3 linked regions of the Homo sapiens genome follow. The protein of the gene in region 2 purifies or fractionates together with the protein of the main gene of each other region. This does not show direct contact. Each region holds a gene or a part of one and is shown on either strand. Other genes may lie near its edges.

Evidence for each region.
Region 1: the proteins of STRAP (region 2) and DDX20 purify together in Homo sapiens (affinity purification with mass spectrometry; 4 studies listed by BioGRID and IntAct, with this or other methods). This does not show direct contact.
Region 3: the proteins of STRAP (region 2) and CSDE1 purify together in Homo sapiens (affinity purification with mass spectrometry; 4 studies listed by BioGRID and IntAct, with this or other methods). This does not show direct contact.

Annotation. Positions count from the first base shown.
Region 1 is NC_000001.11:111,752,088-111,758,900, forward strand, and holds the start of DDX20 (probable ATP-dependent RNA helicase DDX20), read left to right. Parts: upstream 1-3,813; 5' UTR 3,814-3,837; coding exon 3,838-4,138; intron 4,139-4,558; coding exon 4,559-4,653; intron 4,654-6,813.
Region 2 is NC_000012.12:15,885,285-15,892,398, forward strand, and holds part of STRAP (serine-threonine kinase receptor-associated protein), read left to right. Parts: intron 1-4,643; coding exon 4,644-4,725; intron 4,726-5,312; coding exon 5,313-5,385; intron 5,386-7,114. UniProt on the Homo sapiens protein: The SMN complex catalyzes the assembly of small nuclear ribonucleoproteins (snRNPs), the building blocks of the spliceosome, and thereby plays an important role in the splicing of cellular pre-mRNAs.
Region 3 is NC_000001.11:114,733,985-114,740,984, reverse strand, and holds part of CSDE1 (cold shock domain-containing protein E1), read left to right. Parts: intron 1-1,094; coding exon 1,095-1,293; intron 1,294-2,912; coding exon 2,913-3,022; intron 3,023-3,421; coding exon 3,422-3,514; intron 3,515-4,129; coding exon 4,130-4,227; intron 4,228-6,461; coding exon 6,462-6,543; intron 6,544-6,867; coding exon 6,868-6,996; intron 6,997-7,000. UniProt on the Homo sapiens protein: RNA-binding protein involved in translationally coupled mRNA turnover.

The DNA of each region.
Region 1 (6,813 bases), on a different chromosome or scaffold from region 2:
CTTCCTCCTTCCTGCTGGCTGCAATGCAAACGTGATGACTGGAACTACAGCAACTGTTTGGGGACCAAGGCAGAAGCCTGGGTGATTGGGATCTTTGTGGATCAGGGCTGTTTATCAGTCCTGCTTCCAGAATTCTCTACAAGGGCAAAATGAACTTCTATCTTGGGGAGGTAAGCTCCTATTTTGGGGCCTTACTTTCAATCAAACCTAATCTTGATGGCTAAGTCTTTCTTGGCTCCCCACATCTGGTTACCTCCTTGACTTCAGTAGCACCCTGCACTTTATACAGGAAATGAGGATACCTGTTTGTGTGCATCTGTCTCCCCAAGTGCAGAGGCTCTGTTTACTTTGTTCCATTTTTGTATCTCTAGCACTTGGCTGGTTTATACTAGGTGTTCAGAAAATTTTTGTTGAATGATTAGAGATGTTTTGTAGATTGAATGCAAATAATAATATTGCCTACCTTGTGTTGCTTTGAGGGTCAAATGAGAAAAAGTGGCTTTAAAATCTTAAGTTTTCTTCCCTTCTTTCCACATTCCCCCACCGATCCTCACACCCAGGGTGGGCCACCTTACAGTATGCCTTCCTTTATACTGTTTTCTTTTTCTTTTTTTTTTTTCTTTTGAGACGGAGTCTCGCTCTGTTGCCCAGGCTAGAGTGCAGTGGTGTGATCTCGGCTCACTGCAAGCTCTGCTTCCCGGGTTCACGCCATTCTCCTACCTCAGCCTACCGAGTAGCTGGGACTACAGGTGCCCACCACCACGCCCGGCTAACTTTTTGTATTTTTTTTCTAGTAGAGACAGGGTTTCACCATGTTAGCCAGGATGGTCTTGATCTCCTGACCTTGTGATCCGCCCACCTCGGCCTCCCAAAGTGCTGGGATCACAGGCGTGAGCCACCGCGCCTGGCCTGTTTTCTTTTCCTCTGGGTTCAGAAGCCTCCAGTGCAAAATGATTGGATGAGATCATTTGAATCTTAACACCCATTCTGAGTCTAAGTGTCACTCTCACCTTTTCAGTTCATAGGAATCTCTCCCTCCTCTAGCTCCCTGGAAAGGCTCTCCAGGTAGATGGAACAGCAAATACAAAGGTATTGAGGTGTTACAAGTCATGGAGAATTAAGCATCTGGGCTAGTTGGGTCTGGTTGGAGGAGGTAGATGGGCTGCTCTGCCAGAGAAGAGACAGGGATCCCACTGTTATTTATCCCGGGGGAGGCTGGGAGACAGACACAATCAAGCCCATTTCTGTATGTGTTATGCTCACACCTTACCTAGTTATTAAATGATTTCTTGCTTTTGTGCAAGAGATCTTTATAGCACTAAAAATTATGGTCAACAACACTGTTATAACTTTTGACTAGTGAGAAAAAAAATTTGTGTTATTCACCATGGTTCCCAATAACATTACTGCAATATTTGTGTCTGTAAAACATCAAAAACAACAAATGCAGTAACAGAATGCCTATAAAACTATAAATGTTTTCTGGAAATGTAGTCTTTTTGCTTTTCTTGGGATAATCCTGTGGTTCTTCAGCAGTGATTGGTGTGAGTTCTACAGAACCGCTGCTATGTGCATGGAGACCCAGAAGAGATTTTTGAGCAAGAAGGTGTCAGCCATTCAATGTTTATTGGGTCTACCAGGTGCTTGGTGCTGGCCTGGAGGGCCTAGGATGACAAAATTACTGTCCTTGAGAAGCTCACAGTTTATTTAATGTGAGGCACATACAAGTAACCAAGCAAATACAACATAAGAGCCAGACTGGAATTATTTATAGTGTGATGTGGGACCCTGGGGTGGGGAATAAAAAAGGGTATCAAAAGGAGCAGGATCAAAAGGAGCAGGATCTGGAGCTGGACCCAAACAGCTTAAGATATCCACTTAAGAAAGATCACTCCAGCACCTGTGGGGTACATGGCTGGGATAGAGAAGAAACTCTGGCCAGAGAAACCATTCAGGAGGTTTTTGCGAGTTAGGATGATAAAGGGATCTAAAATATAGGGCAGATTCTACGGAGACTGAAGAAGAATGGGTGAAATATTTGGAGGCAAAATTACTTGTGCTTGGTAAATTGTTAGAAAGTGGCAAAGGAGTCAAGAATAATTCCCAGGTTTGTGGTCTGGGGATTAGGCAGATAAAAGAGGTGAGGGCACTAAGAGGAAGGCTGGGACCTTTAGTGCCATCTCCACCATCAGTCTCCATTCCTTCAAACGGATAGTTGACATTTTCTCAATGTTTTGTACATTTCCAGGCAAAATAAACCTTCAGGACCACCTTCCAATGGGATTACCATGTCAAAGCCCCTCCTATATCATATGGAATCTAGACCATCACTGTGTGTGTGTCAAGGGGGTAGGGACAATGACCAGCATTATAATCTATGGACAAAGTTGGGCTTGGTTGCAGAATATATTTAAGTTTGGTATTCTTTGTATTTTTAAAAATTTGTTTACTTTTTAAGAATTTGAGACAGGGTTTCTGCATGTTGCCCAGGCTGGCAACTCCTGGCCTCAAGCAATCCTCCCGCCTCAGCCTCCCAAGAAGCTGGAATCACAGGTGCGAGCCACCCCACACAACTAAATTTGGAATTATGAATATGGCTGAGGTCCAGAAATATTTAAATTTGGCATGATGACTAAGAGTTTGTTATAGGAGCTCAATCATTTGATAAATATTGAACATTTCCTATGTGTCAGATTGTTTTTCCCACTAGGGATGCAGAGGAGAACAAGACAGAATAGGTTCTTGTCCTCATAGAGTGTGGGAGACAGGCAGAAGACATATAATTTCAGGTAGGTATAAGTATCATAAAGAAAAAATAAAGCAAAACAAGAGAGTGCTGGGAAAGGCCAGGGAGCAGAGAGGATGACAGAGCTGTCTTAGGGTGTTCAAGACCTCTTTGAAAAGCTGATATTTGAGCAGAAGACCACAGCAAGGAAAAGTGGCAGAGACTGCTAGCTGCCTACGCATGAAATGATGGGGGAAGGAGCAATACAGAAGGCATGTAACATTTGAGAGTCTATTAGGCATCCCAAGGGAGGTGCTGCGGAGGCGGATGCATGGAGGCGGATGCGGAGGCGGATGCATGGAGGCGGATGCATGGAGGCAGATGGATGCACACGTCTAGAGTTTAAAAGGAGATCTGAGGCGGAGATACGAACTTGGGAGCTGTTAGTCCAGTTCCAGGTTCCAATTCAACGTACTTTTATCAGAGCTCACTGTGCGCCAGGGACTTGCTAGGAGATAAATGGGGTTTATCTCACCGGAGATAAATGTGGTTGCACAGCAGATGGACACACCAGCCAATGTGGTAAATAAACCCTTGGGTCCAGCTACGTTCTGCGCGCTCTCTGCCAGCACAGAGGAGCAGCGAGTCAGGGTACGGAGCGGGTAGCGTTGGGGAAGAGGTGGCCGCGAAGCGAGACAGGCCAGCGGAACGGAAAACGGAAGCACGAGACGGGGGCGTGACGCACCGGGCGCATCACAAAGAACGGCGAGAGGGCGGTGGCGCCGGGGGCACGGCTGGGCGGCTCCGCCCAGAAGAGGGCCGAGAGGCGGGGCGGTGCCCCCACCGCAGGCCCGCGGCGCCCTCTGCAGGCCACAGGCAGCGACTCACCAGTTGCCTCATCTTTCCTCTCCTCCCTCTTGGGGCTTTCCTCAGGCCACATTTTTTGTGTGTCTGGGCAGTCTCTCAGCCTCCGACTCCCGTCCCTTTCTTCCACTTCCAGGCCGGGCGTGTTAGTGTCTTCGCGGGAAAACTGCCAATAAAGTTTTTCTTCTTCTCGCTCCCAAGATCCCCGCCTCCCCTTAAGCACCGCGAGATCTGACGGCGCGGCTACCATGGCGGCGGCATTTGAAGCCTCGGGAGCCTTAGCAGCAGTGGCGACTGCTATGCCGGCTGAGCATGTGGCCGTGCAGGTCCCGGCCCCAGAGCCAACACCCGGGCCTGTGAGGATCCTGCGGACCGCTCAGGATCTCAGCAGCCCGCGGACCCGCACGGGGGATGTGCTGTTGGCGGAGCCGGCCGACTTCGAGTCACTGCTGCTTTCGCGGCCGGTGCTGGAGGGGCTGCGGGCGGCCGGCTTCGAGAGGCCCTCGCCGGTGCAGCTCAAGGCCATCCCGTTGGGGCGCTGCGGGCTCGGTGAGAGCGGGGGCCCGGGATAGGTCGGGGGGTGGGGTGGGAGAAGGGGGACCGACGGGCGGCGGCGGCCAGGCCCGCGCCGCAGCTCAGGAAGAGCCCTCGGTCGGCCCCCGGAGCAGGGCCCTGCCGGGGGCTAGGCGCTACGCTCAGTTAACTTATTTGTAAAACTAACGTGCACTATTGAACTTGAGGATAGTTAAGACCTTTTTTTAAGCACTGACAAATGGTTCTAAGTTTGAGAAGATAAACGGTAAACGTTCAGGGACTAGGCGTGTTCTCATACGTTTTTGAGAATCAACTAAAAATGAAGGTGCCAACTAGGGGAATCTCAGGAGACCCTTCTAGTTCTCTGATTCCATGTTAGCCCCTAAGTTGCTTCAGTGAGTACTGGCTAGTGATAATTGTTTTTTTCCTTCGCAGATTTAATTGTTCAAGCTAAATCTGGCACCGGGAAAACCTGTGTGTTCTCCACCATAGCTTTGGACTCTCTTGTTCTTGAAAACTTAAGTACCCAGGTGAGTTAGCTGAGAGGACCAGAGGAGGATGTGTTTTGTGGACTTTACCACAGGTCAGATGAAATACCAGTAGCTCCTCAGAGCTGGAAGTGAATTTGATGAATGATTGAGTTAAGTGGTGGTGGTGGCGAAATTTGGAATTTTCTATGCGTACCTTATTTAAATAGAATAAAGCTACCATATATGTCAATTTTGTCACTACTTGGTAATACAGACAGGGATTCTTCTTTTACTTACTGACTAGATTAATGTGAGACTTAACATTTGACTTGATTCATGGTAATGTAGTGCTCTGGCTATTGTTGGTAACTGCAGAGTTTGTTTTTTTTTTTTGAGACGGTGTCGCTTTGTCACCTAGGCTGGAGTGCAGTGGCGGATCATTGCTCACTGCAACCTTGAACTTCTGGGCTCCAGTGATCCTCCCACCCATCTTCCTAAGTATTTGGGACTACAGGTGTGTGCCACCACACCTGGCTAGTTCTTGTATTTTTTGTAGAGATGGGGTCTCCAGTGTTGCACAGACCAGCCTTGAACTCCTGGGTTCAAGCAATCCTCCCACCTTTGCCTCCCAAAGTACTGGGATTACAGGCATGAGCCACCACAGCCGGTATGCAGGTGGTTCTTAAAGCTCTGTAAATGTATCATATTGATCTCCCATCTTCCAGGTTGTCTTAGAGTGTTTCTAAGATTGCCTTACCCAAATTAGCAGGAAATTTGAGTTTGGGGATCATTTCTCCAACAAAGGTTTGTTGAGTCCGTATTACGTATAAACAGTGTGCCAGGCATTGGGGATTCAAAGATGAATTAGATGTGATTCTCATAGCCTTACTTGGTAGTTTAGTTGTTATGGCAGACTGTATTTCAAGTTCTCAGGCATTGGTATATCTGATGATGAATCTTCAACAGTGGTTTTTAACCCAGATATCCATGTTCATCACCTGGGAAGCTTTTTGAGTCCATCTTATGTCTACCAAATCCTAGGTGATGTTGCACATTGGAAATCCTCCTACTTCCCAAGAACCTGAGTTAGTCTAATTGTAGACTAAGATGTATTTGAGATTTTGGCTTCTGACAATTTGGCAGCAGATAAAATGCTGAAATCCTGGAAAAGTTTCATCAACTCATTTTTTTTTGAGACCGAGTCTCACTCTGTTGCCCAGGCTGGAGTCAGTGGCACAATCTTGGCTCACTGCAACCTCTGCCTCCCAGGTTCAAGTGATTCTCCTGCCTCAGCCTCCCGAGTAGCTGGGATTACAAGTGTGCACACCACACGCCCGGCTAATTTTTTTGTATTTTTAGTAGAGACGGTGTTTCGCCATGTCGGCCAGGCTGGTCTCAAACTCCTGACCTCAGGTAATCCACCTGCCTCAGCCTCCCAACATGCTGGGATCACAAGTGTGAGCCACCATGCCCGGCAAATTCATATTTTTAATTTCAGATCTTTGGATTATGAAAATTACATTATTCTCTGTGTGTGTATCAAAGTAATACATATTCATTTTTAGAAATAGGGAAAATTCAGAAAAATTAGGACGTACCAGAAAACAAAATCTGTAATCTTACTACCTAGAGAGAAACTGCTATTAACAGTTTTGGCATGTTTTCTCCTAGTCCTTTTTTTTTTTTTTTTTTTAAATCAATTTTTTTTTCTTGTAGTTAAGAGCACAAAGTTTTGTTTTCTCCTCCTCCAGTAGTTACATTGCAAAGTTTTTACCATGACTCTCAAGGTCTTTTGTGATCTAGTCCCTGGAGGTAGATCTCTGACCTCCTTTACTTTCCCCTGAATTCTGTCATGTGGGCCTTCTTTTTCTTCCTCAAATACACCAAGAACACTGCCATCTTATGGCCTTTCCATTTGCTGTTTCCTCTTGGTGAAAACGCTTCCCCAGGGGTCATATAGCCAGCTCTACTCTATGCCATTCACGTAGGTCTCTGCTCAAAGTACCTCCTTTGAGGAGGTTTCATGATCACCTCATTTAAAATGACTCCTTTTTTCCTTGTTTGATTTTTTTATGATACTTTTTATTACCTGTCATTACTTATTTTTGTTTACTGTATATATTCTTATCCAAGAATGAAAGTACCATGAGGGCAAAGACTTTGTACTGTTAACTGTTGATTCCCCGGCAACTAGTATGTTGCCTAGCACAGAGTAGGTTC
Region 2 (7,114 bases):
TTCAAGTGATTCTCCCACCTCAGCTTCCTGAGAGGCTGGGACTACAGGTGCACGCCACCACGCCTGGCTAATTTTTGTATATTTAGTAGAGACGGGGTTTCGCCATGTTGGCCAGGCCGGTCTCGAACTCCTGACCTCAAGTGATCTGCCCGCCTTGGCCTCCCAAAGTGCTGGGATTACAGGTGTGAGCCACCGTGCCTGGCCTTTTTTTTTTTTTTTTTTAACAACCTCACACTAAGGAGCAATTGTAAATCTGCTGCCTCCTTCATTTTAAGTACATTAAACATACCAATTTTAGAATGAAAAAATGAAGGCTGATTGACTGTGGTGGCAGATACGTGACTGTATGCTCTTGTTTATTGAAACAGTGTTGTTTTTATGCTTTCTTAACATTTCAAGTCTCAATGTCTGTGTTTACAAGTGGTGTATTAAGAGCATGAAGGCTGGAGCCAGATGACCTGAATTTGAATTGGTGGCCTCATGCACTTTATTTAACCATTTTTTTTTCTGTCATGGTACCTAATTCATAGGTTGGTTTTGAATATTAAATAAGTTAATATGTTTCGAATACTTACAACATTGCCTGAAGTCTATTACACCTATGAAAGTGTTACATATGTAAAGTAACGATGATAGCTACCATGTAAACTATCACCACCCGCACTTGATCAAAATCACATATTATTTTGAAACTAATATGGCTAAAGCCTTCAAACTATTTGGCCTCATATAAGGAAGATTGAATAGATTTAAATGTCAAGAAGGAAGATTTTTGTGATTTTTTTTTCCCCCTCCTCAGTTAAGGCTTTAGGTGCTGTGTTAGAGTGGAAAATAATAACAAGCATTGGCACTAGGTGGGCTTGCATTCGTGTGCTAACTATGCTGTGTATTTCCAGTTTGATCATCATAGGATTTTTTTTTTTTTTTGAAACAGGGTCTTAGGTGCCTAGGCTAGAGTGCAGTGGCGTGATCATAGCTCACTGCAGCCTCTATCTCCCAGTCTCAAGCAGTTCTCCAACCTCAGCCTCCTGAATAGTGACCACAGGCGTGTACTACCATGCTTGGCTAATCTTTGTGTTTTTTGTAGAGATGGGCTTCACCATGTTGTCCAGGTTGGTCTTGAACTCTTGGGCTCAAGCGATCTGCCCACCATGGCAGGATGTTTCTTAAATGTCGGCTTTCATATCTGTAAAATGGGACTAAGACCCATGAGATTATTGGAGGAACAGAGAGATCTTTCTCCACCATATATCCCTGAAGTCCAATATGATCTCTGTCACATAGTAGGTGCTCAATAAATGCTAGTTGAGATTTATCCCTCATTTCCTCTATGTCTTGTCTGTGGGGTGTAGGAGCGTGTTTTCATGTGCGTGTTTGTGTGTGTGTGTATTCTCTCCAAGAAGTTACTCCCCACAGCCTACCTGATTAGTCATGGTTGGTATAAAGCATTTTTAGAAACAATTTTTTTTTCCCTCCATTCTTACGTTTCTTGGAAAACTCATTTATGGTGTGGTCATTTAGAAGTGGAATTTGGTCCCGTTTCTTGTGGAGAAATTTAGCAGAATAGGTCTGTGGACTAGTGTAGAATGTTATCTTGGAGTAATTCGGGCAATTGAGTCCAGTGTTGAGTACAGTGTCCCTAAAACACCATCTCTTTGTATCTATTTGGGAAGAGTGCCAAAGTAAAGACAATTCTGTGCTGTGCTCCCAAGAGGGCTTAAGTAGATCTGGGATTGGGTCCAGGAATTTATAGGTAATCACAATGTATCACTCTTTCTTTCTTGTAAAGCCAATAGAAATATCTAATTTTAGTTTTAATAAGGTTCTTGATAAATCGAAAATGGTATTATCTCCTAGATGACTTGGTCAACATGTTAAGGTATTTGGGCAATTTTTTAAAAATCTTAAACTGGCCTGTTTTGTTGAAGGTTTAAATAAGTAAGTTAAGCAGCTCCTATTATGAGACTTACGGTAAGTTCATTCTGAGGATATGGAAAGTATCAGGCAGCATTATTATTTGCAAGAAACTGGGGTATAAGAGGTAACAGTAGTTTAAGGAGATGACAAGTACTTCGTGGGATGTGAAGAAAATGTTGGAGGGTTAGCTGCTGAAAGGGTATTGTTAATAGCGCTTTACTGTCTTGATTTGAGCCCTGTGGCCAACTAATATATGTCAATTTCTTGCCTGGAGATTGAATAATACATTAGGAAACATTTAGATTAGATCCATTTTAGGGCTCTTACTGTGAATAATGGAAATCTGCCAGAGTTAGTACATGCCCTGTCAGAAAATGTCATGCCTCTATTTTAGTACTGTTTCTAAATAGGAGGAAAAACTACAGACACATTACCTCTCTGGTTAATATTACTACTTTGGTCACTCCAACTCTCTTCTCACCTTTGAATAGACACAGTCTAAGCAGAATCTTAAGATTTTAGAGCTGCCATGTTGGCGTTAGCCTGTAGCTACTTAGGAGGCTGAGGTGGAAGGATCTTGAGGCCAGGAGTTCAAGTATAGCTTGGGCAATATACCAAGATCCTGTCTCAAAAAAAAAAAGAGAGAGAGGTTTTAAGTTTATGGGAGATTATTTAATAAACTTGAAATTAGCATATCAAAGGACATTGCCCGGGTTTCTTTGGAGACTTGTGAATAATTAGAATAGTAATTTTAGATACATTTGTTGTTTTCTTCACTTTTGATGCTTTCTGTCATTCTAATACTTGTGAACCCTTACCACAACCATGAAATGCATTTCACTGTGATTAAGGATATATGTAAACAAAAAACAAAGCAAATTTAAGCACCGTAATAAGTGGAGTTCTGTGGGAGAACAGAAAGGAATGGTTAATTATTGGAGTTGAGGATAAATAGTTTCAAAGAAAAGATAGCATTTGAAATGAGCCCTAAGGGTGAGTAGAACTTTAATAGCTAAGAATGTAAAATACAGACTTAAGAGAATAATATAAACAAGAACATAGGAGCCTGGAAGAAAATACGTAAGTTATTTGAGGAGTGGTTTATAATCTAGTGTTGCTAGATTCAGAGAAACAATACAAAATGAGGTTGGGAAAGTAGATTGGGGCCAGAGAGTTGCATTGGAATGACAGAGAGAGGAGCAAGTTTCCTGGGCAAAGAGAAATGAATACTAGGGAGTTTAGCAGCAAGGCTACTTATAGTTGACATTATTTCTTTCAGAACATATTTATTCAGCCACTCACATGACCCACATTATTAAATATTGCAAGCTTTGGTAGTGTATCATGAGCATTCCTGTTAGATGGTCTTTCATATTCATTAACCACATTGCACATGCTATTAATGCTTATCTAGAATAGCCTTCCCTTCTTTTTCCCCTGATATATTTCTCTTTGCTTCTTCCGACGGCTAGCTCTGTTACTTACATTTTCTGGACAATATCTAGGTGCTTTTTTCTGAGTTTTTATAGCCATATATATGTCTTTTAATTATATTTCTTAAATGTGATATTTAATGCATGTTTTTCTCCTCAGCTAAAGCTCTACTATGGCAAGAACCTACTGTGGGGTATTTTTTGTCTCCCATTTGTGCCTTAGCACTAAGTATAGAATGATATATATTTAATATATTTTATTATGTATTGGGGTAAGCAAAAGAAAAGATACATCTTGCTTTTCTCTGATTTTTTTCCCTCTACCATTTTATTGCCCACTGTGTTCCTGAAAATAAATAGCAGTTGCATTAAAATGGAAATCTCTATGGAACATAGCTTTTTCACTCTTAGCAATTCTTTTCCCTGTCTGCAAAGTTTTCTTGTTTATTTTTCACTGACCTGTTCTGATCTAAAATCAACTTTTTTTTCCCCCTTCCTTAAGCTTTTTTATTTGGGGGAACCCTTTTAGAGTAATTTTGTAAAGTATTGCTCAACTATTACCCGCCCAGAATATACATACACATATAAATGTATGTATACCTATAACCAACTTGTATTTTGGGGTGGGGTGGGACAGAAAAAACAATGTAAAGATTAAAATAGTCAGTGTTAGCATTATATAATCAAAGGCTGATAGTTTGGGGGAAGTTAACTGTACTAGAGTTTGAAATTTTAAGTCAGCTTTGAAGAAGAGATGAAGTGGACATTGTCTCTCCACTATCTTAATTTAAAATTTTACTTAGCCTGTACCAAGGCTTTTCATTCCCTTGTAACATTTTTAAGGATTTCTGGTTTTTTTATTTATTTTTATTTTTTATTGTGCATCTGAGTGGAGAATAGAGAAAAAATTGGCATGGTGAAACTAAAAATTGGTTAAAATGTATGACAGGCTTGCTAAAGGGATATTATGGCTGTCAGCTAAAATAAAAGTAAGGAGGATGGGTTGGTTCATGAATCTTACTTGCTTAAATTGTTCATATCTTTTCCACTGTCAAAGAAAATTAGATTGGTTATAAAGTTTTTACAGAGAAATTTCTTTTCCCTTAAGCTTATTTAAATATTTTATCAAATGAAGTCTGTGAGGGATATTAGAGATAAAGGAGATTTATAATACATTTATGTAACATTTCACATATCTAACTTATTTGGTACTCATCAATATTATAATTGTATTTATCCTTTTAATATATTGGGTAATATTTATCCTACTAATTTTCTCTTTTTTACTTTTAGCAAAGTGTGGGATGCTGTCTCAGGAGATGAATTGATGACCCTGGCTCATAAACACATTGTCAAGACTGTGGATTTCACGCAGGTATCAGAAAATGGAATTTATTTTAGCGAGTTAAGTTGCTGGTACATAGTGTGATAATGCTTTTATACTTGATTGGTGTGTATATTTGATTGATATGTTTTGTGTGGAATATTTGTTATTTCTTGGTTCATATTTGATTTGATTGTGTATTAAGCTCTATGAATTTGTTTCATAGTTAATCCTGTCAAGCTTTTAAGATACTGTGGAACGAGTACCAGTCCTTCAACATGTAAAAAACATCTGAAAAGCTCAAGTAGCCTTCCCCAACTACTAATAGAAGGGAGAAGATAAATTTGAGATAATCAGAAAAGGGCCTCTCACAAGGGAGAGGAGTAGGATCAGGGGAGAATGGGAGAGTTCATGTATATGTAGTGTAGTGTAACGCTTTTGAAGTGGAAAGCTTACAAGTCTTGGCAGTTATGAGAGGTCAGCTGTTCCACAGTATCTTCTCAGAAGTAATTGGTTATGTCTTGGCATCTCTTTGTGATGTCTGTGAGCTAGATTTTGATTTTATTTGGTGTTGAAATTTGAAAGAGAAATAACTATTAAAATGGTTAATCTATTCACATTTTACTTTGTGTTTTCAGGATAGTAATTATTTGTTAACCGGGGGACAGGATAAACTGTTACGCATATATGACTTGAACAAACCTGAAGCAGGTAAGCATAATTTAAACATCAGCTTCTAGTTTTATTTTCTTTTAATTTAAATAACTGATTAAAGAATTTCATGCTCAGTACTCAAATTTGGAAAATAAAGATAGTCATGGCCGGGCACGGTGGCTCATACCTGTAATCCTAGCACTTTGGGAGACTGAGGCGGGTGGATCACTTGAGGTCAGGAGTTCGAGACCAGCCTGGCCAACATGGCAAAACCCCGTCTCTATTAAAAATAGAAAAATTAGCCAGGCATGGTGGCAGGCGCTTGTAATCCCAGCTACTTGGGAGGCTGAGGCAGGAGAATCGCTTGAACCCGGGAGGTGGAGGTTGCAGTGAGCCGAGATTGCGCCACTGCACTCCAGCCTGGGCAATAAGAGTGAAACTCAGTTTCAAAAAAAAAAAAATAGTCAACAAAGAAGAAAATTAAAACGTAATTCATCAGTTTTTGGTTTATAAACTTTCAGTCTTTTTTTCTGCACAGTTTTTAAAAAATAAGTTTATTTGCTATGTTGCTATTGTATAACCTTCTTCCAAACTGAAAATTTATTATGGCAAATTTTTATCATTAAGTTTTAAAACAGTGCAGAACAGTGTTACTATTTTTTGGTAAGAAAGATTGGTTATTTATAGAAGTTGGTGATGGTGAGAATTCTCAGTTGTGTGCACATATTGCTTAGATTTTTGAACCATGTAAATATATTAGCTATTCGAAAGAATTTTAAAAAATCTGCAGTTACAGTTTTTTCATTTCACTAAATAGTCTATGAACTGTTTGTAATGACTTTCTGGTTTTCCATCCTGTGGTTATATCATAAGTGAATTAACTAGTTTCCTGTTTTGGCCCGTTTGGGCTACTTACAGATTTTAAATATGAAAAGCAGTATTATGCTAAACATCCTTACAGTTGCAAATATTTTCACAATGATTTCCTTAAGATAACTAAGCAAAAGTAGAATTGGTGGGACAAAGAGGAGTGGAATTGTTGGAAGGTGGCCGGGCGCAGTGGCTCACGCCTGTAATCCCAGTGCTTTGGGAGGCCAAGGTGAGTGGATCACCTGAGGTCAGGAGTTCAATACCAGCCTGGCCAACATGGTGAAACCCCATCTCTACTAAAAGTACAAAAAAATTAGCTGGGCATGGTGGCAGGCGCCTGTAATTCCCAGGTACTCAGGAGGGTGAGGCAGGAGAATCGCTTGAACCCGGGAGGTAGAGGTTGCAGTGAGCCGAGATTGCATACCAGCCTGGGGGACAAGAGCAAAACTCCTTCTCAAAAAGAAAAAAAAAAAATGAATTGTTGGAAGCCATTGATAGATACTACCAAAGTGTCTTCCAACAAAGTATGGGTATATATGTATGTATCTATACCCAACATGTTCTAGTGAGCACTGATAACTAACTTTCTCTTTGTCAATTTAAGAAAATAATTCTGTTGTATTAATGTGAATATTCATGAGATTAAAATGCTATTGAATACCATTTTAATATATTCCCTTTTTTATGGAATAATTGCCTGTCTACCTTTTGTCCATTTATCTGTTGTGTTATTCATGTTTTTCTTACTGGTTTTTAAAGGTTCTTTATTGAATTCTAATTTATCATTTGCTTTTAAATTTTGTTAAGGTGGTTTTATGGTATATATGTTTTTAACATTTTGGTGGTGAAATTCTTTATGCATTCTCTCATTTTACAGAAGTTATAGGTGTCTTCCCCAGTCTACATGTTTATTTTA
Region 3 (7,000 bases), on a different chromosome or scaffold from region 2:
TCGTTGACTCAAACTTTGGTTTATCTTTCTAGAATTTGTTACTCTTTTTTCCTAGTGAAAATATATCCTTTTTATTAATAATGCCCAACATTCCACTTAAATGGAAATACTTATAAATCAGATTTTCAGTGAAAGGGTCTAAAACATAATTGTAATGATTTAGAAATGTCATTACTGTGGTAAATTATAGACCTAGGCTTTGCTAAGGATTTCGTCCTGTTTTGTGCTTCACTTATAGTTTTTGTTGTTTTACTCAAAGAAGGGAAATGGAACATCCAATGTGATAGTATTTTATGACCTAGGCAGATTCCATTATATTGCTTTTAAATAGCTCCTATTTCACTAAAGAATGGGAACGAAGTGATAGTTACAGATTTCATCAGTATGTAAAAAGTGAAGGGTTTCTTTTAGGTAAAGATTTCTTTAAATGTACCTGTGAAATGATTCAGCATTTTTAAAATGGAAATGCTTTTGCTGTCTTGGAGTTTTGTTGTTTCAGAAGTTTTCTACTGCACTATTTTGGATAGTCTTTCATTAAAGGACCTAAGCATGAATTACTCTGAAATTTTCTAGTTTAAGTATTGCATAGAAAGTTCATTTTATTGTGTTAATCTCTACTAACTTGAAATATGCCTTCCAAATGCATGACTTACTAAACAGTATTAAGGTATTGGCTGAAGTTTCAAAATAGCGTTACCAAATCTCTTAAGAGTCTTTGGTAGTTTGTGGTCGCTGTCTCTTAATATTAATTACCTTTGTTCTGAAATTGTTGTTTTAGTAATTTTCACTTCATGTAAAGGCAGCATTTGCTAATGTAGTTGCTATACCTTAATATTAAACCCCAGAAATTCTATTTTTGTCTGATAAGTGGAAATTCTACCATAATTTGGGGCAATTCCCCAATATAATAAGTTGTTTCCTCTGAAATGTTTTATTAGCTAAATTAATGCTGCAGTAATAAAGTCTATAATCTTCCCTTCATTTTACTTTTTTTTGCGTTTTTATATGGAAGATTTAGTGACTTATTAACCAGACTTAATATGCTATGGAGATAATGTACAGATATGTATATATTCTTTTTCTTTTTAAAACAGATGAGCTTTGATCCAAACCTTCTCCACAACAATGGACATAATGGGTACCCTAATGGTACTTCAGCAGCACTGCGTGAAACTGGGGTTATTGAAAAACTGTTAACCTCTTACGGATTTATTCAGTGTTCAGAACGTCAAGCTAGACTTTTCTTCCACTGTTCACAGTATAATGGCAACCTGCAAGACTTAAAAGTAGGAGGTAATCTGTCAGTTCTCCTTTGTAAAAATGTAATCACAAAATTTGTCTTGCATATCAATTTGTTCATGAGTGTTTTTCAAAAAGTTTTATGTAAATTAAAACATTTTGGACTTTTAGTTGTACTGTTTAGTGAAGAATATCTGTATAAACCAGCAGAATCCTTGAAAGATTATATTTGCATATATTTACAATAAATGCTTGGAAGATTTCATTGTTTTTCCCCATAATGATGACTGTTTACCCGTAAGATTTTAAGCCAGTACGAATATTGAACTTTTGTAATGTTACTTATGATTATTCTGTCAGGTACTATTTTGGGTAGTACCTGAAAAAAGTAATCCTTAGAGTGTCACCTCTTAGAAGCTGGGCGCGGTGGCTTACGCCTGTAATCCCAGCACTTTGGGAGGCCGAGGCGGGCAGATCACGAGGTCAGGAGATAGAGACCATCCTGGCTAACACGGTGAAACCCCGTCTCTACTAAAAATACAAAAAATTAGCTGGGCGTGGTGGCAGGCACCTGTAGTCCCAGCTACTCGGGAGGCTGAAGCAGGAGAATGGTGTGAACCTGGGAGGCGGAGCTTGCAGTAAGCCAAGATGCCACCACTGCACTCCAGCCTGGGCGACAGAGCGAGACCCCGTCTCAAAAAAAAAAAAAGTCACCTCTTAGATTATATGGAAATTCATTGTGGCTGACACCATACAAATTATTTCACAGGCCTGGCATGGTGGCTCATGCCTGTATTCCCAGCATTTTGGGAGGCCAGGGCAAGTGGATTGCTTGAGCTCAGGAATTCAAGACCAGCTTGCAGCCTGGGCAACATGGCAAAACCCCATCTCTACAAAAAATGCAAAAATTAGCTGAGGAACGTGACATGTGCCTGTAGTCCCAGCTACTAAGTAGACTGAGGTGGGAGGATCGCTTGAGCCCGCAAGGTAGAGGTTGCAGTGAGCTGAGATCGTGCCGCTGCACTCCAGCTTGGGTGACAGGGAGACTCTGTCTCAAAAAAAAAAAAAAAAAAAAAAAAAAAAAGTTTTTACATGTGAAGTGTTTGGCTTACTAAAGGACTGAAATTATGAGGCCTCTGTGCATTTTTAAAAAACGTTTGAGAAAAGAGTCAGTATAATAGCTAACAAGATGCATGCTATAGGAACATTGTTTTGGTTAATCCTCATGGCAGTCCTGTTAGGAATTATTCTCCTTTTACATAAGAGAAAACTGAGGTACAGAGGAGTTTAAAAAAAAAACTCGCCAAAGGTTATGATTGTTAAGTCATCTCATTTGTAGTATGTGTAAATGCCATAAAAACTAAGATTAAGACATGGCTATCTTAGCATAAGATGGTGGTTCTGAAACATTTGTGTGTATCAGAATTAGTGGAAGGCTTGTTAAAACACAGATTGCTATACTTGATCCCCAGAGTTTGTCTTTGGCTAGGACTAGAGTTAGGCCCAGTATTTCTTTTAAGCTCCCAGGTGATGTTAATGCTGCTGGTCCAGGGACCACACTTTGAAAACCACTGGTCTAAGGCAATTCAAATGCTATGTTAAGTATAGCTTGGAAGCAATATATCGTTTCGCAAAAATCAGTTCAACAAACATAACACATTATTTATTTTTAGATGATGTTGAATTTGAAGTATCATCGGACCGACGGACTGGGAAACCCATTGCTGTTAAACTGGTGAAGATAAAACAAGAAATCCTCCCTGAAGAACGAATGAATGGACAAGTTAGTGACTTTGATGCTTTGTGTTTTTTTAGGGCCCTGCATTTGCATATCTTTCACATTAGAAAAGGAAGATTCTCCCCATCTCCTCAGTTTGCACGAAAGAGAGCTATAGTATATAAAGATTACTATTTTAAAATTAATCAAAAGCACTGGCATTTCTTGACCTGAAATAAAAATATGGTCAAGACTCAATTGGGTTTTTACATATAACCCTGAGTCAATGCTTACAGTCAATTTACATACTGTAAGTTTGAAACTTGGCAGCATGACATCCTCTTGTGGATCATATTAAAATGCATCCCTGTATATAGTATAGAGGATATTAAAATTCAGTTTATATTGCACAGTGCTGCTCCTGAAATGATTAGCAATGGAAATTTTTTTTTTTTTGACTGGTAGGTTGTGTGCGCTGTTCCTCACAACTTAGAGAGTAAATCTCCAGCTGCCCCGGGTCAGAGTCCAACAGGGAGTGTATGCTACGAACGTAATGGGGTAAACTTGTGTATTTTTCTTAAACCTTTGCCTGATCCACCATGTGATCTATAAGCGTACTTTAAAATTCAAAATAGAAAACGTAAGCTGCAATTGTTAAAATCAGTTTTAAATTTGGTTTCTAAGAGGCTTCAAATGCAGCATAATCAAAAAATTTAAAAAGAAAAATTCCATAGGACTTCCAAGTGTCTTAGTTTGCCCAAGTATGACCTTAGTTAGAACATTAAGGTAAAATGTTCCTTTTAATCACTTTTTTGGGGGTTGTGGGGGGGATCTTTTTCTGGTTTCTTTTAAGCACTAACACCAGCTTTTTTTGTTTGGAATGCCTTATATAAAATTGTTTTTTTGAAATGTAACTATAGTCTCTGGGCAAATGCTTCCACGTGTGTAAGCTTTTTGAAGTTGGATTGCTGCTCAGCTGTGGACTCGCAGAAGTCATCAGCACCATGGAGGGGAAGTGTGTGTTTATATGAATAAAGTGACTTGTCATAAAGCATTTAATTTTAAGAAATTTGGCTTAAAATGCCAGTATAAGAGGTTTTTAAGTAAGTAAATCACAGTATACAGTGAATATGCATCCTGCCAAAATAGTAATAATGATTTATTAATTCACAGGAAGTGTTTTATCTGACTTACACCCCTGAAGATGTCGAAGGGAACGTTCAGCTGGAAACTGGAGATAAAATAAACTTTGTAATTGATAACAATAAACAGTAAGTTCTTTTTTTTTAAATTTTCTCACCTAAGCGGTTTTTTTTTCCCCCCTCCATTAAGAAATTTGAATAGAGTTAAAAACCTAACTTGTAAGTCTGGATAGTTTTCATGAACTTTCAATTCATCAACTAATGCTTTGAGGTCTATGAATATTGTATTACAGCCATGATGCAGGGTCTCAGAGGAAGATGATAATTAAAACATTGTTAGGCATTTTAAGGACTTGTTCTAGAGATCAGTGAAGGTTTTTCAAAAAATAGTGCTTTGAGGTAAGTTTTGAGGGAGGGGTATAGTCACTATAGAGAGGTGAGAAAAAAGCATTATGATTAGAAGTATCATGACATGTTGGGGGAAAATGGCCAAAAGTTTGGTCGAACTGACCAGAAGGTAAAGTTTGAGCATTCTTCTATGTAGGAATCTGCGTTGTTTAAAACAAGGAAGTGTGATTGGTTTAGATCTTTGGAGGTGGTGGAAGTGGTAGACTTTTGAAAGGTGGGGATGCTGTTGACCAGAGGCAGTGATGTGAGAGTTAACGTGAAAGATGACCGCCTGATATGGATAGACTAAGAGGATGGGGTGGAGGAGTCAAGTCATATTGAGAAGATAGAATCATCAATCTTAATTGATTTGATAAAGGTGGGGTTGGAATTAAAGGGAGTCCCAAATACTGTTTTTCTGGCCTGGCCTACTGGGCAGATGATGGTACCATAAACTGGGCTAAGGAGACATAAGGAGAATGTTCAAGGTGGGAAAAGAATCATACTTATCTTGGCAATTTTTGAGTGTGAGATGTTTGTGATATATCTGGGTAGAGATATCAAATCTACAGTTGCGTGTATAGGTCTGAGACTTAGACCTATTAAGTCTAAGGTCTATTTCCTGCCTATAGGGGAAGTATATAGAGCTGTAGAATTCATCAGCATACACAGTTAAGGAAAATGTAGTTAAGAAAGCCCAGGGAGAATATTATTTTTATCTTGGCATAGGAGAGATGAGAGATGCAAGAGGAGAAGGAAATTAAAATAGAAAGTTGGAGAAAGTGCTAGTAATGTACCTTCCAGTAGCATGTGGAGGGAAAAGTCCTAAGAGCATGTCTGGGATTATCTGCCTTGAACCTTATCTCTTTCTTGGCAAGCCTTGAAGGAATCAGATTGTGTTGTAGGTGTGGTTATTATTAGTTACAGTCTGAAGGCCTCAATTTATATAGTTGTTAATCTCAGAACAGCCTTACCTGGTAAGTTTCTTCATCTGTAAAATGACGTATAAGTTCTCACAAAGTTACTTGTCGATGTTCATACTGCTTTTAAATAGCAGGCATTTAAATTCCCATCTGACTCTAAAGCGTTTTCACTGCAGTAAGTTACAAAAACAGGTAGAATTTTTCTGGTGTCTTTGTTAGTCTGTAACATTTTTTTAAATAAAAAGCACATTTTGGGTTATTTGTCTGTGAAAAATTAAGGGAAGTAATTGCTTGGTGTATAGGTCTTTTCTTAAAACATTTAGACTAACAGTACCATTATGTCTTATACAGTCTATGTTATCTTAAAAACAAAATTGAATTTACATCGCTGCTACACAAATATGAAGGCATAAAAGCAACATGTGGTGTCTCTAACTTGTTTCCATTCTCCAATGGAGGTGGATATCATTACTTTTAAAAGCATAGCAAGTTCTCTTAAAGTCACTTCATTTACTCAACTTTTATGGCTGTTTACTCAGAAATAATTAATGAGATAGCTACTAAATTTAGCACTCACTGAAAATAGAGACCATCTCCTATTTATCTCTGTATCACCAGTACCTTACTTTGCCGCAGATTATACCTACACAAATGTTTGTTTAATGAATAACCTTTATAAGACTTTAGTATTCCCCACCTTTGGTAGCATTCGCTTTGTGGCTTTATTTCAGTTATTTTGTTGAAATAGAAAAACAGAGTAGAACATCACGCACCCATGTGTAAGTTTGTAAAAAAGCAAATCTTCCAACAACAGTCCCAGAGAAAGATGACCTATATATATATTTGCCAAACGTAGAAGGCTAAGGAGTTAAAGTCCTTTGCATATAAAGCCATATGAAAATAATCAAATGTCATAAACCCTGTATTTATTCTTAGTGATGATAGAATTCTTAAAGCCCCAGGAAACTAGTTTCTTTAGACTCATATCTAAGCAGGCCAATACATTTTTAATCCCTGTTTCATTCCTCCTCCCTGCAATTATTTTTTTTCTAGTACTGGTGCTGTAAGTGCTCGCAACATTATGCTGTTGAAAAAGAAACAAGCCCGCTGTCAGGGAGTAGTTTGTGCCATGAAGGTAAGTGTTAAATTTGAGAAACTTGAGTTTTCTTTGGCCACTTGAAATGTTGTACTTCAAACTCCAGCCTTTGTTTTTTTTTTTCTTTTTTATCTTACCCTTTTAAAATATTTCACTGTTAACCTCAAAAGTAGTCTCTTAAAATTCCTTGGTTGCTAATACATTATCTTCTTTAAAATTGGCTGTTTAATTGATAATATTAGGTTGTACCAAATTATATTATTGTGACTACAGTATAATTTTACAAAAATTACTGGTTTTAAGTTGTAATCATAAATTTGTACAGAGTGGTAATAATGTTCTTGGTTTTTTATTTTGCTTCAGGAGGCATTTGGCTTTATTGAAAGAGGTGATGTTGTAAAAGAGATATTCTTTCACTATAGTGAATTTAAGGGTGACTTAGAAACCTTACAGCCTGGCGATGATGTGGAATTCACAATCAAGGACAGAAATGTAA